4 linked regions of the Homo sapiens genome follow. The protein of the gene in region 3 interacts with the protein of the main gene of each other region in a biochemical or structural test. Each region holds a gene or a part of one and is shown on either strand. Other genes may lie near its edges. The genes, in order: MAX, SIN3A, MXD1 and SAP30.

Region 1 (7,023 bases), on a different chromosome or scaffold from region 3:
GAAATTTTGGCTCGCAGTTCTTGAAAGCTTTCTGCTTTTCAAAATTTTCATCCATATGATCGTTGATATAAATTTGTTATTAAATTATTATAATGTTTCTGCTTTCCTGGAATGCTAATCTCATTGTTTTGTCTAGATGTTTTTAGTTTGCTGTTAAGGTGCCTAGGATTTTTCCTTTTGATTTTGGGGGTAGGCAAAGGAAGTTGGTTTGACACTTTGTTTTTAATTTAACACATCTATTTGTTGATATTTCTAAATATTACTCTGCACAATGTAATTACAACAGCATGGAGAGAAAAAGCAGATATGTTATAAACAAATTTTATAGTATATCAAACAACTATTGTGACTGTGTAGGGTAAAAAGGATTCCATTTTTTCCCCTCTGTGAATGCATCTGCTTACTTCTCAATATTTAATATGGATAATAAATATATTTTTTAAAATTTAAGAGGGAGCTATTCTTAAGTTTTGCCTTAGAAAAAAGGTTTAAAAAAAGATGTGGACTGTGAACAACCAAATACTTAGGTATTCAGGACTACAGAAGATGTTGAAAAAGTTATTTGAAAAGGGTTCTGTGGATCCTAATATAAAAACATTCATGTATGTTTTATAATGTCACTACAATATATAGGCCTTACTACATGAGAAATGTAAGATACTGAGAAGAGAGTTAGGAAGTTAGGCTAACTCTAACAGAAAGTGAAACTGATTTGGCAAATATTTTTTTCTATTGCTTCAGTACAAACGGAAAACAGCTTCTCCAATGGCCAGTAAGCTTTGTTAAAGGAAGTAACCCCAAAGAGTATTCTTACTACTAAATTCAGTACATCGCAAAATCCCACTGATGTTATTTTTATTATATTTTGGAGGGAAGAGGTTGCATTTTAAAGATAAATTTGTGGGACAGGTATATTATATTGCAAGGGCTTCCTTTTGCTTTATTTCTGTTTGGGAAATTTCTTTAGGAAAGAGTGTAAGTATACAGGAAATGTATGGGTTAGTGTGTTGGTCAGGAAATGCAATTTTTTTTCCAGTGACCATCCTTGATGGCACCTGACTGAGTTGCAGTTGCAGTATACTTGTGAGGGGTTTGAAAACAGATTTGTGCAATTCCACTTCTGGACCTTTCTGGCATGAAATATTTTTAACTTCTCAGAGCTCTTTGCTTCTTTAGGAATATTCAGAAGAGAACGAGCTTGGTAGCCTCCGAGATTGGAATTCACTCAGGAAACTACTGTCTGTTTTACCTGCAGTCAGTTGCATGGCAAAAGTGCTGCACAATGCATGTACTTTTTCTCTGCTTAGAGTGTTGACAGTGATGCTTACAGTGATAACAAATGCCAGAGTTAGTTCCTAAATGTGCCTGTGTTAGGGTAAAAGTTGTTCTTATGTCTAAAAGAATTTTTCCAAGATGCCAGTAACGGTGAAATAGTTGGTCAAAGAATTCAGCTTGGTTTTTAATTAAAATTTCCTGACCAAGGCATCCTTCTCTGAAATGGCTATAGTATGAGGCCCTGTTTGGATTATAGCATTTGCCAGTTATTTTAGGCACCAAAAGAAAAAAGTTTGAAAACAAATACATACATTAGATAATGTTGGAAATGTATACCAGGCAATCAGCTACAAGCAGGACAGGTATTGGAAAATTGAAATCCATGTCTTTCTCTTAGGGAGCTTGGTGAGTTTATCCCATCCTACCTGCCTATTATTTTATGTTATAATTTTTGGGTTGATTAAAATGAATATTTTAAGTTGCTTAGAAATTGAGCTTTATCCTATCTTGTTCTTATCTATCAGAAGTAAGAAATAGATCTTTTCGGATGAGATTTTTGGGTCTGTGTATTCTCGTGTCCTTAGTCTCTAATAAGAATAGCTTGATAAGAATCATAAGCAACACAAGCTTCCCTCTAAAATACAACCTTCACATTTTGTAAAGGTAGTAAATATTGAGTGGGCAACTAATTCCCTATATGCTGAGAATTTTCTGTATTAGAATTGAGATGGTTCCCCTTATAGGTGGGGTTAGCTGTCAGGTAGCCTGTAAGACATGGCATTGTTCTGGAGAACCTTGTGCATCCTGGAATAATGAAGCATTTATTTCCCCGTGCTATTTGCCTAGAACTTGGAGGAAATAAGATTACTGACTGATGTGATGCCTTGAACAAAGATGCAGTCTCTCTGCAGTAAGTTGGAAGGAAATAATTTTAAGAGATTTCCCTCAATTTTGAACAGACCTCCTTAGCCTAGATGACTTCTTGCCAACATAGCAACTTCTTGGCTAACAAAATAATGTTTGTCTTCAACATCTAACAACACTTAAGATACACGTGCTTGGTAGTGTCAAAGATGGACAAATTGTAGGTGAAGATTTTTATTCTGTCTACCAGTGTGGAAAGTTGGGTAGAAATATAACTGAGAGGCTGAATAAAAACTTTGGCAGAGATGTCAAAGCTGGAAGTGATTTGGTGCGGGAGTTTCTGTTGAGCATCTGTGGACCACTGCATAGCCCCTTAGTATTTCTGTTAGGGATGCCCTGGAGGAAGGGTTTTCTGGCAGACATCCAGACGTACAAATCCAGCGTACTAGAAGAGTGGGCAGCATCCAGCCACTGTAACCATAGGATGTGTAGGGGAGATGTTTGGGAGCCTGCTGTACAGTCCAAGAATACCTCTGTGGTCTCCTAGAATAGGGCCTAATTAATTCCACAAGGGGGTTTTCCGTACCATTTGTTTTCATTACTGAACATCATTCTCAGTACAGGCTCATCTGAGTAGAGTTTTATTTGTTCAAGACAATTGTTTGGGCTTGTTTTTTAAAACCAGTTTTGCATTTGGGGGAGGATATTAGATGCCTTACACTGGGAGTCTTCACCCAGTTTTTCTTCTTCAACTCTGAAATCTTGGCCCTCTCAAAAAGGGTTGCCAGCAAGCAAAGACAGTTAACAAGGCAGTGATAAAGCCTGCAAACTAGTCCTCCAATGGGGGTGGGGATGAGGCGCGGGCAGTGTTATTGGTCTGGGTGGATCTGTGGTTTGGAAATGTTTCCCACAGAGAATTCTCAGCCTTGTGTAAAGGTTTTTCTGTTTTTCATGTGCTCTTTCAAAACATTAGTGATAACATTTAATTCACAGTTGCCTGGAATTAGGCTTGTTAGTTCTGCATGTTTTTAACTTGTTCTTTCAAATCAAGCTTGGGGAAGAGAAAAATACATCCTTGCCATTGTCTCTGAGAGATTTAAAATTGACTCCACTAGTAGCTCAGGGATGGACATGGCAGCAGGGATTGGTGTAAGATTCCACTCTTCTGCTAGTTAAATTGGGCCTGGAACCACTACAGAAATTCCATCCACTACTTTGAGAACAACAGTCCCCAGCCCAGGCTTTCTACCAGGCAGTGGACTGCTGCCTTTCCTTGTTGAGCCAACTTCTCAAACTTGGCTGGCTCCCCAGATGAGAAGCCAAGATTTCTGCTCATGATCTACAGCCAAGTTCACTTACAATCCTCCAACCGAGAGACTTGTCCATTTGAGTCCTTTCAGAGCTCAGTGAATGGGAGGGGGTAGTGCATTGTGGGGATGATTTTGGTGTTAGATTATACTTAGCTCCACCCCTTTAGTGCAGGTCCACGTGAAACCAAGTGCAACTTCATTCTAGCTGTTTGAGATTTGCAGGGCTCTCCCAGAAAGAAAACAGACAATTAGAATTTTATTTGTATCAACAAGAGGGATTGTGGGTAATTCTGGTGCACAGCTCTTAGCTGGGAGGAGGGCCAAGAATCAGGGTGATTTAGTAGACAGGAGTATCTTGGGCTGCTCTGGAGACCAAAGATGGGCAATTAATTTGCATGTAAATAAACCACCTTAGGTAGTATATAGCAAACAGGAGCCGCAGACACATGCCAAATATTGTCTCTTGGCCTTTAAGCTCCTTAGGTATAGTCGCAGCCCAACTTATCTTTATGTAGATGATCAGAGGGAACAACAGTAAGTTCAAAAGGACTAGATACTTAAATAGGTTCAATTCTGTCGCACTATTTCATGCTACTGTTAGAAGGCATCTATAATTTTGCGCTAAAGTTGTATGATACAGAGTACCTACCTCTACCCTCAGGTTATGTGGTGTTCCAAACTTGACTGTCCTCTCAGCTTCATATTTCATGTCACTATAGTTCAGTAAACATTCATTTTACAGTGAATCCAGACTTAACAAGATTAGGACAACTTTAGAAGTGCTCCAGGCATCTGCCCCAAAAAGAGAGATATGCTATGGAGAACCATGGTTGTCATGGGAACCACATGTCCAGTTCAACAGAGCTGTAGGTGAGGTATTATGTTTAAGAGACCAGGAAGTAACTCAGATGACTACAGGTGCTCCCAGTCTCCTCTTCCTCTGTAATGACTGGGACTTTTAGGATTAAATAACAGGAGAATTTCAAGTCCTTTCGTTTTCACAACTCTTGATAGATTTTTGTCTGTACATCTTCTCTAGTACAAGGATTAATGTGAGGCAGCATTATTCTTGTGCTAAGCCAAGTTATTTACTCTTGTTCCATTTTTTGAATTTCTGGCCCTCTGTTTGTATAGATTTAAGCTACCTGAACTTCCCATGTACAGACTGGCTCTCTAGATTAGCTCAGTGCAACGTTGTGCATTCAAGGTGAATGTTCAGAGCATAATTTCCGTAATTCCTAGAGTGTAGGTGTGATGAAGTTCTTCTTGCTTTGGGTTGTTTGTGTTCCATTTGGAGGGGAGACCCCTCTGATGGGGACCTGCTGAAGTGCTCTTATCATGCTCTCCAGCGCTATCTCTTCTGCCTGAAGCCAGAGCATTTTGCCATTCCTGATTTGGTGTTGGCAGTTTTGGTCCATCTCCAGCTGACCGTTCTTTGTGATTCCAAGCAGGCTAAGGCTTTGACTTGGATATTTAGATACTGCCAGTTAGCCTGACCTGCCACAGGTACCTGAGAGAATTTATTCTGAGTATGTGGTGTCAGAAGTTGTGCCCTCTAAGAACTGCCTGTCAGGCACTGCCTGTGTGCAAGGAAGCCCTTGGCAGGATAGCACCTTGGATCTACTTTTAAAAAATAGGAACTCAGAATTCAGTTGTCATCTTATCAGCTCTGTCATAATGATCTCAGATTCATGCATCTAGGTTTTATAGAGGTTTTAGCTTCTGTTGTATGATTTGGTGAGAAGGTCTTAAACTAGTGCCTTTTAGTGGGCTTGGGACTCATGGTGATGGTTTCACATTAAAGAAGCACCAGTGACTTAACTCTTTCTTCCCCTGGACACCCATCTGGGGAATCTCTTACAGTGGAGGTGATCACATCTTAAGAAGGGGCCACTGGAGCTTTCTCTAGTCACTTCCTAACCACAGACTGGTGGCTCTTCTGTCACATAAGCAAGTTGGGGGGGACCACTGATGTTACAGGAGAGTCACACTTTGTCCCCCTGAATAACTTTTATTTTACTTATGCATGAGCTGGATGCATCGAGCTACTTTGGATGTTCCTGTCGCAAGCGTTGCTCACCCCTTTCTCCCCCTTTAGCAGAGCCTAATTCTGGAGACTCCTAACTGCCCACCTCGAGAAATCCTTCCCAGTCCACTCGCCAGGGACAGTGCTGACAGCGTGTACTTCCAGGCTGTACCCCACCCACCTTGTACCAAGCAAAAGGAGTGACATTCCTAATGTGTTCTTTCTCCCATTCTTCTAGGCTGACAAACGGGCTCATCATAATGCACTGGAACGAAAACGTAGGGACCACATCAAAGACAGCTTTCACAGTTTGCGGGACTCAGTCCCATCACTCCAAGGAGAGAAGGTGAGTTTCCTGAGAAAGCTGAGTAGCTGGCCACTACTAGCTTGGAACTTGTTGCAGAGCTTAGCAGAGCACTCACCTATTGGGAAGGAAATGTAGTCAGAGATATTCAGGTAGCATGGTTGCCTTATTTTTGACTGTTTGGAGGATCACTGCACACCTTACGTACTCCAGTTTATCCTTAACAAAATATGTCAGATATAATGGAGCTATTTGTGAGATAATGGTAGGAGTTATCTTTTAAAATTTGTATTATTTGTAATAAATTCAAGAAATTATAACTATACACTATAGTATAAAGAGTGGCCAAGAGTTCGTTTGGGATAACAGTAAAGATTCCAGAGGTCATTAATACCCTAGACCTCCATGAGAATTCCTTTCCTATGGTTCAAAGTTAATACTTTATTGTAAATGAGCACTTGCAGAAATGTGTGTAATGTATGTGAAAAACAACCTGGGCACCATTGATTTTCCAGCCCCAATAATTGTTATTTCCAAGGCGTATAAAGAGCATTTTAAGCTGTGGGACAAAAGACTTGAGTGAAGAGACATGTTCATGTGAAACAGAAAAAAAATAACCATTCTTCCCCACTCCCTTCTGGAACCTAGTGTTTTCCCTGGAGGGCTAGGCACCAGCTGTTTCTACATTTGAAAAACAAAATTAGAAGCTTTGAGTAAAAGCCTATGGGTTAGGGTCACTCCCTGGAATTTGGAGAAAACATCTGCATGGCTAGTTCCATCCTTGACAGAGAGTGTAGTTGTCTGTAGCAATTCATTGGAATAACTGGCAAGCTGGGAAGAGGACCTGTGTTTTTGCTTTAGTGATCCAGTGTTTTATAAAGAAGGAACTATTCTGTTAAGAACAATCTTTGCTTTTGGGTGCACTTTGATTTAGTTCTGTGGTGGGGGTCCTGGATTTGTTTGGTTATCCAAGATCAAATTTGGAACCCTTATGCTTTCATTTTTTATATTGTCACTCTGGTAAGTTATGGCCTCTATACTTTATCTAAGGTGTGGCTTTCCATGTGGCGTAAACATGGAGAAGTTCTGACCTTTATAAAGAACAAAACAGGCCATGTACATACCTGGTATTGCAAAACCAGAATTTGCCATGGGTTAAGCCTACTTAGTGTGGACTTGATTTAATGACCTTAAACCAAGGTACTTACCTGGAATAACAACCTTCCTGGGTACAACACTAAGTA
Region 2 (7,023 bases), on a different chromosome or scaffold from region 3:
AGTTTAGCATAGTGCTTTTCATGGCTTTCTCTCTTTTCTGGGCAATCCACCAGCCAAGAGTTTGTTAAGCTTTACTTTCTGTAGGCCTTTAAAAAAATAAATAGTATATGCTTTTTCAAAATACACCTTCCTCGCCCCTTGAAAAATAAAAGCTGATATTTATTGAGCACTTACTGTGTCACAGATACTGTGTTAGGCACTAGACTTTTTTTTTTTTTTGAGATGGAGTCCTGCTCTGTCTCCCAGGCTGGAGTGCAGTGGTGCAATCTCAGCTCACTGCAACTTCCGCCTCCCGGGTTCTAGCGATTGTCCTGCCTCAGCCTCCACGAAGAAGAAGCTGGGGCGCCACCACACGCCTGGCTAAGTTTTGTACTTTTGGTAGAGGCAGGGTTTCACCATGTTGATCAGGTTGGTCGCAGACTCCTGACCTCGTGATCCGCCCGCCTCAGCCTCCCAAAGTACTGGGATTACAGGCATGATCCACTGCACCCGGCCGCATAATGTCTTTTTTTCTCATGTCTTTTTTTTTTTTTTTTTAGACGAAGTCTCGCTCTGTCACCAGGCTGGAGTGCAGTGGCATGATCACAGCTCACTGCAGTGTTGATCTTCTGGACTTAAGCGACCCTCCTACCTTAGCCTCCCATGTAGCTGGGACTACAGGTGTGTGCCACCACGCACCTGGCTAATTTTTTTTATATTTTTATAGAGGTGAAGTCCTGCTGTGTTGCCCAGGCTGGTCTCGAACTCCTGGGCTCAAGAGGTCCTTCTGCCTCAGCCTCTCAAAAGTGCTAGGATTAAGACGTGAGTCACCGTGCCCGGTCATGGGTGGCAATTTCTACCTGATGTATTTCTTATTTGCCCCTTTTGCTTTTGTTTTCCCTACCCACTTTTTGTCTTGTATGCTTGTATGTTACCCATATTTCTCAGCATGACAGTGGACCCTTCATGAGTCTTCTTGGTGTCCTCCAGGGCTAGGCTTGCTGACATATGGGCTATTGGAGGATATGCAGGTCCACATCCTTTATTTGCAGTTCTGAAATGCAAGAGTTTTTGTTTTTTGGTAAGTCTAGTTCCACAACTAGTTTTGGGGTACAGCCTGACCTGGGCTATCCTGCATGATGCAGAAATGTGACTGCTTGATTATGGGGAGCTACTCAGCCCTAGCTGGGAGAGAGAGATGATACAGTATATGTACCATATTACCTTTCTAAAATCCAAACAATGCTGATGACTCTAACGGGGATCTCTCCCTCTACCATAGACTAATATGTTTAGTGGCCCACTCAAGGTCTCCACTCGATGTCTCCTCTTGGATAACTAAGAGACATTGTTGACTCTTCTGTGTCTTTTTCATATGTGGTCCATCAGTAAATTTTACTGCTTTATATTCAAAATACTATCCAGAATTAGACCACTTAGGATCTGCATCTCCACTGCCCTAGTCAGTGCCTGTGCATCTCTAGCTTGGATTCTATTCTCCTTGTTTTGTTACTGCGGCTCTTAAATGTGTTCTCAACATAGCAACCCAAGTGATTCTTTTGAAACCTAAGTCATACCGTGTCACTTCTCTGCTTAAAACCATCCAGTGGCTTTCCATTTCAGTCTGAGTATTAAACCTGAGTCCTTATTTAGATATGTCTGTAATGAGCTGGGCGCGGTGGCCCATGCCTGTAATACCAGCACTTTGGGAGGCTGAGGCAGGCGGATCACGAGGTCAGGAGATTGAGACCATCCTGGCTAACATGGTCTCCACTAAAAAAAATACAAAAGAGTTAGCCGGGCATGGTGGCACACGCACCTGTAGTCCCAGCTACTCGGGAGGTTGAGGCAGGAGAATGGTGTGAACCCGGGAGGTGGAGCTTGCAGTGAGCCAAGATCGTGCCACTGCACTCTAGCCTGGGCGACAGAGCGAGACTGTCTCAAAAGAAAAAAAAAAGGATATGTCTGTAATTTCACCATTTTGGGAGCTCAAGTGGGAGGATCGTTTGAGTCCAGGAGTTTGAGACCAGCTTGGGCATCATAACAAGACCCTGTCTCTATAAAAAAATTAAAAATTAGCCAAGCATGCTGGCGCGTGCCTGTAGTCCCAGTTACTTGAGAGGCTGAGGCAGGAGGATTGCTTGAGCTCAGGAGCTTGAGGCTGCAGTGAGCCATGACTGTGCCACTGCACCCCAGCCTTGACGACAAAATGAGACCCTGTGTCAAAAAATAAAAAAACACCTGTAAGAACAAATCTGATGTACCCTCTGCCTGCCACCCTTATCCTAGTACCTCTCTGACTACATTTCTGACTAGTCCTTCTTTCGTTTTTCTTCAGCTACCCAGCCTTCATGCTGTTTTGGAACATGTCAAGCACATGTGAGCCCTCACAAAGACATGAGGGTCTTTGCGGTTGCTGTCCCCTCTGCCTAGAAGGCTTCCTCCACTAATTTCTGCATGACTAGCTCCCTCACTTCCTTTACTCAGAAGTTACCTTATCAGTAGGTATTATCTGACCATTCTTATCTACAATTTCAAAAACTCTTCCTTGCCTTTTGTTCTTGATACCTGTCACTGCCTACTATTCTAAATATTATACTTTGTCTATTGTGTCATCTTTCACTAAAATATAAGCTTCTTGAGGGAAGAGATTTTTGTTTACCGTTGTATCTCCAGCTCCTAAAACACCTGGTGCATAGTATGTGCTCAGTAGATATTAGAGAATGTATACATGAATGAATGATTTGGTTTCCACCACAGACAAGACAAAGCAGTATGCTGAGCATGGTAGAGGATACATAGATGGTTAAAGATGTTATGTGCCCATGTTTGTGTGGGAGCAGAAGAGCTAATGTGATAAAAGCAGTGTGAGATGTGAGTGACACTTCCACCTGTCCTTTCAAGAACTATCTCAAGTTCTATTCTTTGTAATGCTCTATTTTCTTTTCTTTCTTTCTTTTTTTTTTTTTTTTTTCTTTTTTTTGAGACAAGGTCTCACTGTGTTGCCCAGGCTAGAGTGCAGTGGTACTATCTCGGCTCATTGCACACACACACATACACACACCCAGCTTCAAGTGATTCTCCTGCCTCAGCCTCCCGAGCAGCTGGGATTACAGGCATGCGCCACTACACCCAGCTATTTATTTATTTATTTATTTATTTTGAGACGGAGTTTTGCTCTGTCTCCCAGGCTGGAGTGCAGTGGTGCAATCTCGGCTTGGCACAATCTCAGCTCACTGCAACCTCCACCTCCTGGGTTCAAGTGATTCTTCTGCCTTAGCCTCCCGAGTAGCTGGGATTACAGGCACCCACCACCATGCCTGGCTAATTTTTTTTTTTTTTTTTTTTTTTTTGAGACAGTGTCTCGCTCTGTCGCCCAGGCTGGAGTACAGTAGCGCGATCTCAGCTCACTGCAATCTCCCCTTCCCAGGTTCAAGCAGTTCTCCTGTCTCAGCCTCCTGAGTAGCTGGGATCACAGGCGCCACCACCATGCCTGGCTAATTTTTTGTATTTTTAGTAGAGACAGGGTTTTACCACGTTGACCAGCCTTGTCTTGAACTCCTGGCCTCAGGCAATCCACCTGCCTTGGCCTCCCGAAGTGCTGGGATTACAGGCATGAGCCACTGCACCTGGCCTTATAGATATTTTGAAAGATTATATTTCTTATATTAAATAGAGATAGGGTCTTACCATGTTGCTCAGGCTGGTCTTCCTGGACTCAAGCAATCCACCTGCCTCAGACACCCAAAGTGCTGAGATTACAGGTGTTAGCCACCATGCCTGGCCTAATACTTAATTTTTAAAAAACTTTTTCTTTGGAAATAATTTTAGACTTCAAAGAGAGTTGCAAAAATAATACAAATAATAGCCCTATAATCTTCACCTAGATTCCCCAAGTGCATCTTTTAAAACCACAATACAGTGATCAAATCAGAAAATCAACATTGATAACAATTATTAATACATTTTGAATTTAACTAAATTTCTGTTCATTTTCTACCTACAGTAGTAAGAAATGTCTGGGTAACATCAGTGTCACCGAAGTCTGTATTGCCCAGATTGGTCTCAAACTCCTGGGCTCAAGCAGTCTGCCCACCTCGGCCTCCCAAAGTGCTGGGATTACAGGCCTGAGCCACTGCACCTGGTCTGGACTCAATTTTAGTTTTTGAGTTTTGCTTTTTTTTTTTAAAGCAGTACTAACTACTTGTAAAGATGTATATTTCATGACTTTTATTTATTGGAGGTCTTCAAAACAGCAAAGAGAAAATTTATTTTTATTTTTAATTTTATTTTTGAGATGCGGTCTTGTTCCATCCCCAGGCTGGAGTGCAGTAGCGCGATCTTGGCTCACTGCAACCTCCGCCTCCTGGGTTCAACTGGTTCTCCTGCCTCAACCTCCCGAGTAGCTGGGATTACAGGTGTGTACCACCATACCCAGCTAATTTTTGTATTTTTAGTAGAAATGGGGTTTCACCATATTGGCCAGGCTGGCCTCAAACTTCTTATCTCTCGAAGTGCTGCGATTACAGGCATGAGTCACCATGCCCAGCCTGAAAATTTATTTTTTTTCCAAAGGAATAAACTCATTTTAGCTATTACCACTTGTACATCGAAACAATGTTGTGGAGTTTTACTGATCTTATTTTTCCTGTATATTGAAATGTTTTGGTATTTCATCATCCTAGGAATTATTTCATCATTACTCATCAATTCTCAAATATGCTAAAGAGGACTAAAATAATATGACAAAGGGAGAATTATAGAATTGCTTAAAAGGATATGCAGTAGTGAAATAAATCATTAGTTTTACACTTCAGTTTTTAGAGATGGGGCCTCGCTTTGTTGCCCAGGCCGAAGGGCAGTGGTATGATCATAGCTCTCTGCAGCCTCAAACTTCTGGGCTCAAGTGATCATCCCTCCTAAGCATCCTCGGTAGCTGGGACTATAGGTGTGCACCGCAGCCCTTCAGTTTTCTTATTGCTTTTCCCAAAACTTACAGCAACTTTTTTTTTCTTTTTGGATACAGGGTCTCACTCTGTCACCCAGGCTGGAGTGCAGTGGCGCAATCTCAGTTCACTGCAACCTTCGCCTCCCAGACTCAAGCAATCTCACCTCAGCCCTCCAAGTAGCTGGGACTACAGGCATGTGCCACCACACCTGGCTAATTTTTGTATTTTTTTTGTAGAGAGAACGTTTCGCCATGTTGTCTAGGCTAGTCTCGAACTCCTGGGCTCAAACAATCCACCCACCTTAGCCTCCCAAAGTGCTGGGATTCCAGGCATGAGCCAGCATGCCCAGCCTACAGCATCTTTCAAGAAAGTATAAAAGAAGTTGGGAGATACCATCTTAAACATTATGTAAGATGTTAACATTTGGAGAATCTAGGTGAAGGAGTACATGGTAATTTTTATACTATTTTTCAACTTTTAAGCTTTCATTGGACATATTTAAAAATCCATAGTTTTTCATCTTCCTCCTATAATGGCAAAGAGAAGAAAACTGACTACAGAAGACATTTCAGAGGAACTAGTAGATGAATGCTGTGTGACAGTAGTACTCTAGACTGTTAGGATGACGGTAAAGTTATATAAACCAAGTTGTAAAATAAGAGTCTTCAGCCAGGCATGGTGGCGTGCACCTGTAATCCTAGCATCTCGGGAGGCTGAGATGGGAGGATCACTTGAGCCCAGTACTTCAAAACCAGGCTGGGCAACATAGCAAGATTCTGTCTCCACCCATATACATATGTGACTGTACCCTAGATGAGTTTAGAATGTGATTTTTTTTTTTTTTTTTTTTTTGAGACAGAGTTTTGCTCTTATTGCCCAGGCTAGAGTGCCATGGCACAATCTCGGCTCACCGCAACCTCCGCCTCCTGGGTTCAAGGGATTCTCCTGCCTTAGCCTCCCAAGTAGCTGGGATTACAGGCATGTACCACCATGCCTGGCTAATTTTTTGTATTTTTAGTAAAAGATGGGGTTTCTCCATGTTGGTCAGGCTGGTCTTGAACTCCCAACCTCAGGTGATCCACCTGCCTTGGCCTCCCAAAGTGCTGGGATTACAGTCGTGAGCCACCATGCCCAGCGGTGAATTTTTTTTTTTTTTTTTTTTTTTTTAAAGATGGGATCTATCTCACTATGTTGCCCAGGCTGGATTTAAATTCCTGAGCTCAAGCTGTTCTCCTGCTTCAGTTCCCCCAAGTAACTGGCACTATAGGCATCCAGCTAGAATGTGATTTTCTTTTTATAAGAATCAGAACTGGGCTGGGTGCAGTGGCATATGCCTGCAATCCCACCTTCTTGGGAGGCTGAGGTGGGAGGATCGCTTGAGCCCAGACGTTCGAGACCAGCCTGGGCAACATAGTGAGACCCCATTTCTATTTTTAAGAAATGAAAAAAAAAAACAATCAAAACCACTGCACTTTGCCAAAAAGATGTATGATAGTATTCTTTCATCTTTCAAGATATTTGTACACCAAAACTTAGTTGATGCAGTTTGTAAGTGGACAGGTGCCAAAGTTACGTATATGTATAAAGATGGTTAGAAGGAAAAATTATGTAAAAATGAAAAAAAAAATCAGTTTTTTTTTTTTTTTTTTTTTTTTTTTTTTTTTGAGACAGAGTCTCACTCTTGTTACCCAGGCTGGAGTGCAGTGGCATGGTCTTTGCTCACTGCAACCTCTGCCTCCTGGGTTCAAGCGATTCTCCTGCCTCAGCCTCCCGAGTAGCTGGGACTACGGGTGCGTGCCACTGCACCCAGCTAATTTTTTGTAGTTTTGGTACAGATGGGGTTTCACCGTTTTAGCCAGGATGGTCTCAATCTCCTGACCTCGTGATCCACCCGCCTCGGCCTCTGAGAGTGCTGGGATTAGAGGCAAGAGCCACACGCTCAGCCTGGATTGTTCATTCTGATTGACATTTATTAGTCTAAAAATGAGAATGCTTATGATTATGGAGCAAAGAAGATGACTGTTCTCTCCAACAAAATTATGAAGTGAGTTTTCAAAGTATTTCATTTGATGGGCAGAAAGGGAAAAAAAGACCC
Region 3 (7,023 bases):
TAGTCAGAACTGAGAAAAGAGAGCTGAGACGGGTGTTTGTTCTGCTTGTTTTGGATCTGGGAGCTCCGTGGGTACTCAGGGCTGGCAGAGGGATTCTAGATCCCAGGAGTTTGTGTGTCTGTATGTGTGTCTGTGTATGTGTGTGTGTGTCAGGGTTGGAGAGCTTTGGTAGGAGCTGTACATAACAGAGGGGTCTGTTTGCTTTTTTATCTGGTTCAGGGATTGGATTTCACTACTGTATGATAGAACTGAGTCTACTTAATATATTTCATTGCTCTCCTGTGGTTGGCCCGGGCACCAGTGTGGGGATGTCTGCAGGCAGTGGCATGTGGGCAGGGGGCAGCCATCAGGCTGCAGCAGTGAGGCGCCGGAGAAGGCCAAGGCAGACACTGCCAAAGACAGAGTTGGCTTTGGGTCTCTGCAAAAATCCAGAAAGAATTCTGGTCCTATTTTTGTAGAACTAGGCCAGAAAACACTGAATGAACAAGTATTAGTCTCAGCTGGAATTAGTCAAATGGCTTATTTCTAGTTTCACGACTAGGAGTGTTCTTTGGAAACCCACATTTGGGTAGTGAAAATTGCACTTTCTGGGCAAGACTCCTATAAGGCTAGAAATGACAATGCATCAAAAGATGACTTTATTATATTTTTATCAGTGGACAAACTTCCTAAAAAAATTCACACACTCATATCTGCATATAAACCAACATCATAAAAGTACTAAAATGACACTGTTCTGAATCATGCAGTCTTTGCAAATAACAAGCTGGCTGAAAAATATCTAAATATAATTTTAATTTTTGAACTTTTTCTTCTAATTGGAAAATTAGCTCATACCTGTAATCCCAGCACTTTGGGAGGCTGAGGCAGGCAGATTGCTTGAGGTCAGGAGTTCGAGACCAGCCTGGCCAACATGGTGAAACCCCATCTCTGCTAAAAATACAAAAATTAGCCGGACGTGGTGGCGGGCGCCTGTAATCCCAGATACTCAGGAGGCTGAAGAAGGAGAATCTGTTGAGCCTGGGAGGCAGAGGTTGCCATGAGCTGAGATCACGGCACTGTACTCCAGCCTGGGCGACAAGAGCAAGAACTCTGTCTCAAAAAAAAAAAAAAAAAAAAAAAACAAAAAAAGAAAATTAGTCTATAAGTTTTATGGCAAGAAATAGACAAATTTATAAATGTATAAATTATACTTTCTCATAGTGTTTCTAATAACATGATCTATTTTCATGGCTCTTTTTGAAGAATATTATCCAAGATGAACAAGTATATTTTACATACAAGTTTTCTTCCCTTCCCTGGTCCCCACCACATGCAGTAGTGGGAGGAGCACACCTGTAACATGAGTCTTTGCTCTGACTCTGCCACATGGACAGGTTTTTCAGAAGAAGTGAAAGACTTACAAAATAGTAAAGCCCTTGTGCTATTACCTCTTCCTAGCTCAGAAATGAATGCTGTACTCCCCAAGCTTGCCAAGCCTTAGAGCACCCTTGGAGAGTTTAGGACAACTTCCTCATGACCTAGAAGAGGCAGGAGGCTCAGAAGGAAGGAAGTCTAATGCCTTGCTTACTAGCCCTGCCTTAGGGGAACATCCTGAAGTCTCCCTGGAGAGTGTGAATTGACTTCTTACATTAATATCATGCATATTCACCTGTCCTATAGCTTTCTGAAGCCATTTCCTTTCTTTGGTCTATATTTTCAACTTTTGCTATTACAGTACAATTCTTAAGAGGAAAAAGGGCAAACCTATAAGGCATTGCATTGTTTCCCAATTCAGCTGGAGGGGAGCCTCCTAGACCCCAGGGAACTCTGCTCCAAGTAGGTTGTGTGTGGGCAATGAATGTTATCTAAAACCTGAAGACTCTGAGCACTGCTGAAGGTGCAAAGATGCAGTAGAGATGGACTCTGTCCTCTAGAAGCTTAAAGTCTAGTTGAATAGATGACATAATCCATTCAGCAAACACTTATTAAGCATGTGTGTGTTTGAGGCACGGTGACAGCACAGCAATGATTAAGCTGCAATCCTGACTTTCTAAGGAGACTGCAATGAATGGTTAAGTAAGAAATATGAAACAAGTCAGGCAGTACAGTGAACTTCCCAGTGAATAATATAAACAGTTAAGTGGTGCTTAGAAAATAGAGGAATCACTGTGAGCTAGGATGGCTTGGGAAGGCTTTAAGGAGGTGGTAAGCTTAAGCAAAACCCCCAAATCTCAGCTGCTTCTTACATTCATAGAATTTTCCAGGTTCTAGAATAAAGCACAAACCATTTCAAGGAAATGTAAATTTCTCAGTTGGAGCAACTCTCGTGCTCTCTCTTCAGTCAGTTGCCGTGGCTGCTGCTTCATCCAGCCCTTCTCCCTCTCCCACTCCGTGCCATTGCATCAGTCTGACATACTCCAAGAACAAAAAGTATAAAAAATGACTCAGTAAAAACCCCCATCACTTCCTTCCTTATCTCTGTCTGACTGTTCCTTGCCTTCTCCCTGCCCAGCCAGTTTCTTATGTGTCATTCCAGAGTTTGTCTACATACAAGAAAACATGAATATAGATTCTTGTTTTCCTCCATCTTTAAGATAGCATGGTATACTCACAGTTTGGAATCTTGCTTTTCTCCACTTAACAATATATCTGGAAAATCTTTCCTAATAGGACATAAAGCACATTCTCATTCTTTTTGATAGCTACATAGTACTACACGGTGTGGATGTAGCATAATTTATTTAACCAGTTCCCTCCTGGGTGGTCATTTGGGTTGTTTCAATCTTTGCTATTACAAATAAAGCTTCAACAAATAACTCCACAGATATATATGCTCCTTGACTTATGATGGGGTTATGTCTCAAGAAGCCCATCATAAATAAAAAACATCCCAAGTCTAATATGCATTTAATACTTCAATAAACTCATTATAAATTTAAAAAATTGTAAGTTGAACCATCATGAGTCAGGGACCATTACTGTATATAGTATTTACACATGTGAATGACTATATAATAGCAGATATTATTCCCTACCCCAGCACTTGTATTATCAATAGACTTAGCTTCGAAAACCTTGGATTTTGCTTCTCATTGGTTTTCACCAGAGTTGTCTGGTTCAAAATATGTTTATTCAGCAAAAGGTCATTGGTAGCATTTGCCATCGCAAGGCCTGGGCAACTTCACACTCTTTGAGAACTCATTCTGCCTGGGGTGCTTCTGGCCCACTGTGAAACTCTCAAATGCTACTGTGGTCTTGTTTTCATAGACGGGCTCATCTTCGCTTGTGCCTGGAGAAGTTGAAGGGGCTGGTGCCACTTGGACCCGAATCAAGTCGACACACTACGTTGAGTTTATTAACAAAAGCCAAATTGCACATAAAGGTAAGTGTATTGTTGGGATGCTGCTTTATCTTTACCTGTTCAGTGAGGGTTTGTCTGTTGTTACATCTCCAGGACAGTCCTCTCCCCTGAACTCCTCCAGTCTAGCTATTGGATGAATCACAGGTACCTCAAATGCAACATATTCAAAACCCAACTGAGTGTTTCTCACTCCCATGCACCAGAGGTTAAATGGTCCATCCAACTCTCCATCCAGTTGTACAAGCCAGAAATTCAGGAGTCCGTGATAGCTCCTGCTCCTTAACCATATATCTAGGCCATCTCCAAGGCCTAAATATTTTGCAACCGGTCTACTTCCATCTTCATCCCCACTGTCTACTGCAATAAAATCCTCAGAGGTCTCCCTATATCCCTCTGGGTCCCTCCCGTCTGCTTTCCATGCTTCCTGAGAACAGTCCTTCCAAGGTGCAAATCAACACGTGACCTTGTTTAAAATTCTTCTGTGGCTCAGGACAAGCTCTGTCACCTGGTCTGCCCCAGATTCTGCCTTGCCTGGTCCTCACTTGCCTCTGCAGCACCATCTTGTTCCCCAATTCCCCTTTCTCCAGCCCTTCTTCCAGTCCCTGGCACTGTCATATTGTCTTACTTTAGGGCCTTTGTCAATGCTCTTCCCTCTGCTTGGTACACTTTCCTCTCTCTTCTTCACCTAGAGGACTTCTACTTATTCTTCAGATCACAGTGCAAGTCTCTCTAGCTCTGATAATCCTTCGCTGACTTTCCCAACTCAGTGACCTCCTTCCTGTGACAGGTGGTCCCATCACTGGGTATCTCTTAGCCCTGTCATAACTGACATTTGACAGTGGTTTGTGTGACCATTGTGTTGTCTCAATCCTTAGACTATACACCCCACGAGGGAGGGGACTGGGTCTTTGTGCTCACCTCACAGCCCCAGCACCTCCTAGGGTATCGGGCACAGAGTTGACACTCTCTTTGCTACCTGAATAGCAAAGGGTAAGGGGAATTGGATTCAAAGTCTTGAGAGCCACAGCCAAAATCCCTGTTTAGCATGTTTGTATAATCATATTATAGTTGGACAAATGTTACTTTAATTATGGTTAGAAGCCTGCATTCATGACAATTCTGGGAGAAAACCTCTATTTAAAGCAAAACAGCTACAATTAAACAATCTTCTTAATTATCTGAAGAATATGAGAAGCTGGGGGCAGATTTATAAAAATGAGTATTCTATGGAAATGTGTTTTCTAAACTCTTCTGTTGGACAAATTAGAATCAGGACATCAAAAGGGACTATTATTTCCTGCTAACAAACAGAAGTTAATTGAGATTTGGCATGACACAAAAAAGTGCTTATGTAATTGGGACATGTACTTGAATAAACATAGTTTTAAATGGAAGCGTGTTTCTTAAGCTCCCATCAAGTGCAGTTTTCTAGTCCGGAGATCAGGTGTTCAGGGGATTGCTGCAAACAAGGGAGATCAGGTTGGGGACTGCTGCCTGCAGTCTTTCTGATACTAAAACTGAGGGCTACCAGGGTGCCAGTATGTGAGAGCTCACCCCCAGAATCCCTGTGACAGGACAAGTACCCCCAGCACTGGCGATGCTGAAGAGTCAGACGAAGCCAGGAGTCACTGGCCAGTCGACTTCCTGTCTCAGGGAGAAGCTTGATGAGTGGCACCGAAAGGCGTCTGAGGAAGTGTGGCGCATTCCACTGCTAGAAGGGAAGATGCGGGGGCCATTGCCCATTTAGAGATCTCCCTGTGGGGCCCAACAACTACCCCTTTGACTTGCAGAAACTTGAAGATTGTGACAGAAAAGCCGTTCACCAAATCGACCAGCTTCAGCGAGAGCAGCGACACCTGAAGAGGCAGCTGGAGAAGCTGGGCATTGAGAGGATCCGGATGGACAGCATCGGCTCCACCGTCTCCTCGGAGCGCTCCGACTCCGACAGGGGTGAGCCTCTCTCACTCTCCTCCCTGTCTCCCTTGTGCTCCCCAACCCCAGAGCAGGGGTTCAGTACTGCGGACAGGAGGCAGAGTGTAAGAAGAACTAAGACACTGGGTATGATGTAGAGAAGTCGAACAGTGTGACCTCCAGTGACAGGTTCCTTCTCCCTGCTAACACTTAGGTGACAACCCCAGAAGAGTTTGATTGGTGTCAGTTTTCAGCCTAGTTTGTTTTGTTTTGTTTTGAGACGGAATCTTGCTCTGTCACCCAGGCTGGAGTGCAGTGGTGTGATCTTGGCTCACTGCAACCTCCGCCTCCCGGGTTCAAGCGATTCCCCTGCCTAAGCCTCCCAAGCAGCTGGGATTACAGGCACACACCACAATGCCTGGCAAATTTTCCTATTTTTGTAGAGATGAGGTTTCACCATATTGGCCAGGCTGGTCTCGAACTCCTGACCTCAAGTAATTCACCCACCTTGGCCTCCCAAAGTGCTGGGATTACAGGCGTGAGCCACCACACCCAGCCAAATTTTTGTATTAGTAGAAACAGGGTTTCACTGTGTTGGCCCAGCTGGTCTCAAACTCCTAACCTCAAGTGATCCACCCGCCTTTGCCTCCCAAAGTGCTGGGATTACAAGCATGAGCCACCACGCCTGAGCTTTCTGCAGAGCGCTTTCATCAATGTCCTTCTCTCTTGTCCTCCCTGCAGAAGAAATCGACGTTGACGTGGAGAGCACGGACTATCTCACAGGTGATCTGGACTGGAGCAGCAGCAGTGTGAGCGACTCTGACGAGCGGGGCAGCATGCAGAGCCTCGGCAGTGATGAGGGCTATTCCAGCACCAGCATCAAGAGAATAAAGCTGCAGGACAGTCACAAGGCGTGTCTTGGTCTCTAAGAGAGTGGGCACTGCGGCTGTCTCCTTGAAGGTTCTCCCTGTTGGTTCTGATTAGGTAACGTATTGGACCTGCCCACAACTCCCTTGCACGTAAACTTCAGTGTCCCACCTTGACCAAAATCAGCTTTGTAACTGTTTTCAAGGAGGTGCTTAGGATTGTGGGTTTCTGATTGCATCCACTAGCTTCTCTTTTTCTCGCCATAAAAATTTGTCTCTGAGAGACTATACATTCCAATCAATTTGAAGCATCCAAGAATTCTTAGACCGAATAAGCAATGTCCACATCTCAGCAATCCCCCTCTTTGCTCTCCTCGTGTCCTCTCCCAGACCTTTCTTCCAGTTTTCTGGCTTACTGTGTTACTTGCCTAGGAGGAATGTCCAAGTGTGTCTTGTACTTAGGAAACTGAAGGAAACAAACTTTTGAAATTGAGATCCTGATCTCAGAACTCCAAAGTAAGCTTTGAAAGCAGCATTTAAGAGCACTTAACCATGGACCTCACCACCAGTGAGGAAGTCAGGAATACCTCTAGAAAACACGCCCTTCACACCGCGCATGCTCATTCCCCCGACGCGCCGCGTGTGGATGGGAGCAGTATTTCTCACTTTAAAATGGACACCTTGATAGTGTGTCTCTGGGGTTGCACAGCTCATCAAAGTTCCAAATTGTTTGTTCTCACAAACAAAACGGTACAATCTATTTTTGTGCGATGTTCTTGGGACCTCGCTGTGTTCTGCTATCTCGAGGCACATTCTCCCCTCCAACTTTGTTAATGCTACTTGTCTCTGGAACATTTTTTTTTCCTACCTCAGAGATAAATGAGATCTCCATTTCCCACTTAA
Region 4 (7,949 bases), on a different chromosome or scaffold from region 3:
GGAGGAGAGTGGAGCATGTTGGCTTCTGAGCTTGGGGTCCTGTGCCACTGCAAGTCCCTGAAGCTGGCCCTTTCAGCAATGTTCTCTTTCCTGACCTGGGTAGCAGTTATACGGATGTGCATTTTACCATAACTGCTTGTCTCCGTTCATTTGTGCCGCCATAACAAAATAGTTGAGACTCAGTAATTTATAAAAACCAGAAATTTATTTTCTCAAGGTTCTGGAGGCTGAGAAGTTCAAGATCAAGATTTGATCTTGGTGTCTGGTGGAGGCTGCTCTGTGCTTCCAAGATGGTGCCTCTTGCTGCATCCTCACATGGTGGAAGAGATGGAAGGGGTAAACTCGCCCCCTCTATCCCTTTCATAAGGCGCTAATCACATTCATGAGGGTGGCCTCACCACCTCCTAAAAGCCCCACCTCTTAGTACTGTTGCATTGGGGATTGAGTTTCACAATGAATTTGGGAGGGGACACACACAAACACTGAAACCACAGCACTGCTTAAACTGGACATTCATGCTTTATACAATTTTCTGTATGATGGCTGAGTTTAAAACTAGATAAAGGAAAGGTGGTGTAAAACGGAATGAACTTTTGCTGTAAAATATAGAATTATTCACATATAGAGATGTATATACTAGTAAATGCATACTTTTTTCTAGAAGGAAACAATAATCTGTTAACACTGGTTGCTTCAAGGGACAGGGATTTGAGGAGATGAGGTAAAACAGGCTTTTGTTTTTCATATGAACCTTTTTGTATTATTTGAATTTTCTACTGTGGTCATGTTGGGATTATTGGCCAATTTATATGTTTTTGTAAATTAAATAAAATTATTTAGTTGCTTATTTTAAAGTAAAGCCAGAAAAATGCAATCATGTTAAAAGCCTATAGGGAAGACAGGCACGGATACATACTTTTTTAAGAATCATATTTTGAACCATTTTAGAAAGCAAAGAGCATTTTTGTTGATATGAACAACCCCCCTATAATTAAGGTTTCATAGATCTATATTTTTTACCTAGTCTACTCTGAGGTAGATTTACTGTGAAGCTAAAGGATTCAAACTTCAGAGTCCCTCACTTGGATAGACCCTTATGAAGTCCTGTACCTAATTTTAATTTTGCATTCATAATTTTACATACTTCTTTAAAAAGACCTTTCAGATTATATAATCTTGAAGCCCCCCTAAAACCTGATTCCAACCTTGACTGTGAGTTACACTCAAATCAAAGAGTTCTTATACCTGCCCTAAATATGAAGATTTGTAGAAATAAGTAACAAAACATGGTTGTAAAAATGTATCTAAACAAATAGATTCACTCAAGATACACTTTAAATCTGGCAGTGAGAATTAACATGTCCCCTACTCCAGCAATCTTTTCAACTTGCCAGAAATGAATCATTTCCTCCTATGTGCTATGCCTGTACTTTCTCTCTATTGTTATTGAGGTTTGTATTATGTGCTTGTTAAGCTACCTGTCTGCCCTACTAGACAAGAAGCTCCCAAATAGCTAGGACCCTCTCAATTATTTTTGTGCCTCCAGGGCCTAGAAAAAGATTCTAGCATGCAACAAGTGACTGTTTAATAGGATCTTTTTACAACCATTGTATTGTGTGTAAAGGAGCCATAGCTACAGTTCTTTACTTGAGTAAGCTTCATATGAAACTGATAACTATACATATACATACATGCACAGCTTAAGGAGATTCACAAAGTACTTATCAGTAAGCATCTTTCTTTTTCCTACTGAATTTACATGATTTGGTCACATTTTGCAGAAGATATAAGCTTTTTTAAGCACAAGAACCAAACAATATGAATTTCATGAACTATTTTAAAAACACATAAATGTACAAAGAAAAATATGAAAATTCAACATCCCACTGTCATGTTTCAGATATTTTTAATAAATAAAAACTTTAAAATTCAGAAGAAACCATCTTTAAGCCATTCCCAGTGTGAAAATTGATCATACAATCTGGATCATTCTTGTCATACCCAACTAAATCAGAATCGAGGGACCAGGGGAGAAAGCAATCAGGGCACACAGCTCTAGCATTAAGAATTAAGTTTTTTACAACCCAGCTGCTGAAACGGCCTGCAGTAACTCTAAGACCAGTTTTACCGAGTAGTTGCTGAAACAATCTCCTATGACTAAGACTGGTTTTATCTACCACTCTCACTCACCAATCAGAGCTTGCCAGCTTCCCAAAACTTTACTATAGTGCCAATGAACCTTCTTTCAAAACAGTAGCAACATTTCTCTTTCTAATAAAACTCTCGACCTTCTCTTTGTTCTTCTGACATACTAAAGACCACTCAGTCTGTGTGTATGTCCTGAACTGCAATTCTTGCTTCCCCAAAAAACCATTAAATTTAGAAATTCATCTCTTTATATTTTATGTTTACTCTGACACCATATACAAATTCCTTGGCCTCCTTCGTTGGAGATGAGCATCACCCTGAAGTTGGGATGTATCATCCCATCCATATATTCTCATTTTTACCACTTAAGAAAATGTATCCATAAATATATAACATGTATCCATAAATATATAATTATTCTGTGTTGTAATTTTTTTTTTTTTTTGAGACAGGGTCTCGCTCTGTTGCTCAGGCTGGAGTGCAGTGGTGCAATCTCAGGTCACTGCAACCTCTGCCTCCTGGGTTCAAGCAATTCTCCTCCCTCAGCCTCCCAAGTAGCTGGAACCCCAGGCTTGTGTCACCATGCCTGCCTAATTTTTGTATTTTTAATAGAGACGGAGTTTCACCATGTTGGCCAGGCTGGTCTCGAACTCCTGACTTCAGATGATCCACCCTCCTCGGCCTCCCAAAGTGCTGGGATTACAGGCGTGAGCCACCACGCCCTACTGTGTTGTAATACTTTAAGCCAGTGTTATCTAATGCAACAGGTACAATTTATTGTAATATTTTGTTTAACCCATTACATCCAAAACATTTAAACATATATAAAAATTTTTAATGTGCACTTCAATATTCTTTTTGAAAATTTCTTGTAGTAAGTCCAGAAATAAAAAAAAAGTCCAGCTGATATATACTTACAGCACATCTCAATTCATATGCTAAAGTTAGAGTTCATAAAATTTAAGTTGGAAAAACAGATTCATATATCTGAGTTGTTGCAAACACACTTAAAAGTATTCCAACAATTGAATCGAGCATCAGGTTTTTGGTTTTTGTTTAATTCAAATTCAATTAACGATTCAGTTTTTCCGTCTCAACCACATTTCAAGTGCTGAGTAGCCACATATGGCTAGAGGACAGCCTACTGGACAGCACAGCTTAAGGAGGTACACAATGTACTTATCAGTCATCATCTTTCTTTTTCCTACTGAATTTACGTAATATTTAAATTGTTTTTCTTTGTCATATCCTAGAACTCAAACGCACAGATACAATGGATACCTTTGATTTTCTGCGTCGATGGCATTTTGCATTTAAAAAGATCATCTGGGTGGGGTGGCGCGCGTCTGTAATCCCAGCTACTCGGGAGGCTGAGGCAGGAGAATCGCTTGAACTCGAGAGGCGGAGGTTGCAGGATCGCGCCACTGCACTGCACTCCATCCTGGGCGACAGAGCAAACTGTCTCAAAAGAAAAAAAAATCATTTATCACTAAATTTACTCACCAAAAGAACTTGCAAAAAAAAAACCCAAAACCCTACTGCCTAAAATATATTTTAAAACGTATTTGTGTTTAAGCAGCATATATCTTTTGATAAATAATGACGCATGGTAGCTAACTAGTAAAGATGCAGCTTTCATATTAGCCACGCCCATCCCTCTCTCCGCCCTCCACAAGCACGTCCCCGCAAGCGCGCAGGAACATACACGCGTACGCGCGCACACACACGTACACACGCGCGCGCCCGCGAACACATACATACAAGCAGGCGCGCCCAAACGCCGGCAGCACACAGGCGCGCACGCGCTTTTCAGGACTCAGGAAATGCGCTTTCTGCTCCCCGCGCCCGGTAGAGCTAATGCAGGGAAGTTTCTGGGAACATTCGACCAGCGTTTGTATTGGTGAGGTTCCAAGTTTCCTTTAAAATGATATGACTCCGCCCTTCTCCAAAACCGTTTGAGGAGAAATGGAAAAGGTTGGGCGTGGAGGTGAAAAGGAGCCCTGTTGTCAACTGGTCCGTACTCCACCTCAGGAGGCGGCCAACTTGGTGCGCCCAAGAATAAAAACATTTCCCTTGTAAGAACATGCAAGTGTTTAGAAACGCCCCCCCACCCCCCCGCAAGGCGTTTGTGAGGGGGACCTGTCACAGTTGAGAAGTCAGGATGGGCGTTTTCCTCCCAGGAGGTGCCCTATTAATTTGCGGCCTCGATAGTTGGTCAAGCCGGGATGTTAGCTGCGGAACCTCCAGGACCGAAGAGCGCCAATTCTCCTGAGTTCTCCTTGGTTTGGGTTTCCCACAAAAGAGTGGTCACACCAAAAACTCTGTCTCCACAAATGCGAAACGGGCTCGAAACTTTTTTTTCCCCACACGATCACTTCCCACACCACTCCCATCCCTTTATGTTTCGCCTCAGGAGTCGAGGAACTTCTCTGAAAACCAATTCTACGATATTCCAGCAGCTAAACACAGCCCGAATTCCCTAGAAACAGAGAGAGCGAGAGAAAACACTGTAAACCCCAATCACACGCTCCTGTTTTCCCGGTACTGAAAAAAAAAAAAAAAAAAAAAAGTGGGTCCGTGGCCGCGCTATGCATGCTAGGATTAGTAGTTCCTCCGTCCCTCATGGCGCGGGGTCAGGGCGGAGCTCAGGTTGACTCTGCAGCAGAGAACTACAATTCCCATGGGGCCGCGCGGCAGAAAGAAAGGGGCGGGACGGGAGGGGGCGCGTCGCGCTTGCGCAGGTCCCGGGGCCGGAGGGAGGCGGAGGCGTAGCGGTCCAACTGCTGAAGTCCCCATGTGACAGTGAGCGGGGTCCCCGCTCCAGGAGACGCTCGAGTCTGCGTCCCGGCCCTCAGCACTGTCCACTGTTTCGGTGCCAGCAGAGACCAGCAGGCCCGGGACAGTTGGTGTTTGGCCGTGCCGCTGTCTAACTTGGTGTGCAGAGTGAATTGCCGCTGCCGGAGCGGAGAGAGGCGGAGCGGCCAGGAGAGAGGGGATTTCTGTCAGCGCCGGCCTCGGGAGCTCGGAGACATGAACGGCTTCACGCCTGACGAGATGAGCCGCGGCGGGGATGCGGCCGCCGCAGTGGCCGCAGTGGTCGCTGCCGCGGCCGCCGCCGCCTCGGCGGGGAACGGGACCGGCGCGGGCACCGGGGCTGAGGTGCCGGGCGCGGGGGCGGTCTCAGCGGCTGGGCCCCCGGGGGCGGCCGGGCCGGGCCCCGGGCAACTGTGCTGCCTGCGGGAGGATGGTGAGCGGTGCGGCCGGGCGGCAGGCAACGCCAGCTTCAGCAAGAGGATCCAGAAGAGCATCTCCCAGAAGAAGGTGAAGATCGAGCTGGATAAGAGCGTAAGTAAACCGCGGGACCGCCCTGCCCTCCCGCCCCTCGGTGGGGCCCCAGGAGCCGGGCAAAGGCACGGGTTGTCGGCGGGGTCCCCCAGACAACCGCACTGGCTGCAGTGCGGTCTCGTGGAGTCTGTGTTTGGAAGCAAATAACAAAGTCGCTGCAACTCCTACCGCCACCCCAACACACACACCACACACAGGCTGTCGTTCCCCTCTTCTTTCCCACCCTGGCCCCCAACCTCCCGCTGCCTGCGTCTCTCCCGCGCAGTCTTCCCTCTTCCTTCTCCTCTGCGACCGGGACACGAAACAAAGGGGACCGGCGCACTGAGGGCCCAGAGTAGTTTTCTTGCAGCCCGGCAGCTCTTCTGGAATGGAGGCGCCTTTGTTTTGCTGCCCAAGCTGGTGTTTGGCCCCAGGCGGTACTAAATCCCGTCGTCTAGGAGAAAGCGGAGGACCTTCACGAACAAGGAAGATCCTGTTCTTTTCTGTGTTCCGTCTCCTCCGGAGCGGAGTGAGAGGGAAGCCGAGCTCACCCGCCGCCTGGCAGTGAGCCGGGGTTGTAAACGGCGTTTGCGCTGTCAGCTCCGAGGGCAGCTACTCCGATGGTGGGGAGCACGTAGCCTCTGCGGTTTTGCCATCCCCTTGGCAGCCATCAGGATTTTTTGCACGTCTTTTCGTTTGACCATCTATGAGGTTTTTAGAAACAGCCGTTGCTACTTTTGGGAGATCTGGCTAGCGGTAAATGAATAACATGGTATCGAGAACCTACCACAAGTCCTGCATATTTTTATCTTGCGCTTGGCTTAGAAGTAAATGTAAAAGCCTGTTAGCTCAGTCCGTGTTTGTTTCAAATGCTAGTCTACAGCTCGCAGGAGTATATGTAATTAAAGTTTTTGAAAAGTTTATTTGTGACACTTTTTGCCCGTTTAAACAGTTTTCAGTGTTATCCATGAGAAACTCTTCAGGTGAACTTGCATAATTTCAGATTGTTTTGGAAAAATGTGTTATAGATAAATACATTGATTTAATATTCAGAAAAATGTATAACTGAAATTTAAATATAGTTTTGAAGTCGATGGCTCATTTGTGAAAACGAATGGTTTTGTATCTGGACTATAATTTGGGTATTCAGTTAGAAAGACTGGAAAGCATACATTATATTACTAAAATATGCTGTTCTTTTAAGTAGAGAAAGTACTGTCAAGTAGCAAAACTGTGAGCAACATCATCTTTCCCCTCATCAGTTAAAAATTCAACATGAACTAATTCAGGTCATCCTTACTGCTATCTGTTTGTTTATTTATTTAAGACAAAGTCTCACTCTGTTGCCCAGGCTGGAGTGCAGTGGCGCGATCTCGGCTCACTGCAACCTCCAACCACCAGGTTCAAGTGATTCTCCTGCCATAGCCTCCTGAGTAGCTGGGATTACAGGCTACTGCCACCATGCCCGCCTAATTTTTTGTATTTTTAGTAGAGACGGGATTTCACTATGTTGGCCAGGCTTGTGTGGAACTCCTGAGCTCAAGTGATCCACCCGCCTTGGCCTCCCAAAGTGCTGGGATTACAGGCGTGAACCACCGCGCCCAGCCCCTCACTGCAATTTGATGACAAAACCCAGAGGGTTGGAATTTCTCATTCTCCTCTCCCTCCCTCCCTTACCCCCTTCCCCAGATGGAACCAACCCCTCCTTCCCCATCCACCATCCTTTTAACAGTATTCCAGACATCTTATGTTTTAGCGTATAGGATTTAAACGTATAAATATTCCATTATCTTAACAATGGCCCATCTTGGCTGTCTTTATTTTTAAGAACTCACTGTGGCATATGTGTTTTACTAATACATAGACACATTTTACTGTAATCATAAGCAGTGTGTAAAACTTTTCTGTTTCAGGCAAGGCATCTTTACATATGTGATTATCATAAAAACTTAATTCAGAGTGTTCGAAACAGAAGAAAGAGAAAAGGGAGTGATGATGATGGAGGTGATTCACCTGTTCAAGATATTGATACCCCAGAGGTAGATGGAAGTTTTTTATGCTTAATGTAAATCCTAAGTAGTGCATTCTGAAGCCTTTATAAAAAGATATGAACAATCTTTTAAGTGTTTAAAACATTTGAGAAATCTGAAAATGAAAGCAAAATTAAATATAGCCAGTTGACATGCATTTACACAGTTTGAATTGTTACATTTTAGATTGACAATTTTTGCAGCTCTGTTGTCACATAACTTACTCTTTTTTTGACCTCAGTTTATATTATTTATCCCCAAAAGATTAAATTCTTTAATAATTTATGTTGGATTATATAAATTTTTTAAATTTTTTTTGATTTTGGAAGTAAATTTTATTGTGCTGAAGTTAAAATGTTTGTTATTATACATATCAATGATAAATTTTCAACAAATTGTATGAACTCATTTATACATGTTAATTTTTTCTAGGTTGATTTATACCAA

The links.
Region 1: the proteins of MXD1 (region 3) and MAX form a complex in vitro, tested with the Homo sapiens proteins (4 studies listed by BioGRID, with this or other methods).
Region 2: the proteins of MXD1 (region 3) and SIN3A form a complex in vitro, tested with the Homo sapiens proteins (4 studies listed by BioGRID, with this or other methods).
Region 4: the proteins of MXD1 (region 3) and SAP30 form a complex in vitro, tested with the Homo sapiens proteins (one study listed by BioGRID).

Annotation. Positions count from the first base shown.
Region 1 is NC_000014.9:65,092,506-65,099,528, reverse strand, and holds part of MAX (protein max), read left to right. Parts: intron 1-5,217; exon of another isoform or gene 5,218-5,713; coding exon 5,714-5,821; exon of another isoform or gene 5,822-5,897; intron 5,898-7,023. UniProt on the Homo sapiens protein: Transcription regulator. Forms a sequence-specific DNA-binding protein complex with MYC or MAD which recognizes the core sequence 5'-CAC[GA]TG-3'. The MYC:MAX complex is a transcriptional activator, whereas the MAD:MAX complex is a repressor.
Region 2 is NC_000015.10:75,441,690-75,448,712, reverse strand, and holds part of SIN3A (paired amphipathic helix protein Sin3a), read left to right. Parts: intron 1-538; exon of another isoform or gene 539-660; intron 661-969; exon of another isoform or gene 970-1,060; intron 1,061-2,317; exon of another isoform or gene 2,318-2,480; intron 2,481-3,307; exon of another isoform or gene 3,308-5,379; intron 5,380-7,023. UniProt on the Homo sapiens protein: Acts as a transcriptional repressor. Corepressor for REST. Interacts with MXI1 to repress MYC responsive genes and antagonize MYC oncogenic activities. Also interacts with MXD1-MAX heterodimers to repress transcription by tethering SIN3A to DNA.
Region 3 is NC_000002.12:69,932,102-69,939,124, forward strand, and holds part of MXD1 (max dimerization protein 1), read left to right. Parts: intron 1-615; exon of another isoform or gene 616-1,092; intron 1,093-3,249; coding exon 3,250-3,364; intron 3,365-5,133; coding exon 5,134-5,293; intron 5,294-5,995; coding exon 5,996-6,183; 3' UTR 6,184-7,023. UniProt on the Homo sapiens protein: Component of a transcriptional repressor complex together with MAX. In complex with MAX binds to the core DNA sequence 5'-CAC[GA]TG-3'. Antagonizes MYC transcriptional activity by competing with MYC for MAX binding.
Region 4 is NC_000004.12:173,366,005-173,373,953, forward strand, and holds the start of SAP30 (histone deacetylase complex subunit SAP30), read left to right. Parts: upstream 1-4,949; 5' UTR 4,950-5,178; coding exon 5,179-5,493; intron 5,494-7,385; coding exon 7,386-7,511; intron 7,512-7,934; coding exon 7,935-7,949. UniProt on the Homo sapiens protein: Involved in the functional recruitment of the Sin3-histone deacetylase complex (HDAC) to a specific subset of N-CoR corepressor complexes. Capable of transcription repression by N-CoR.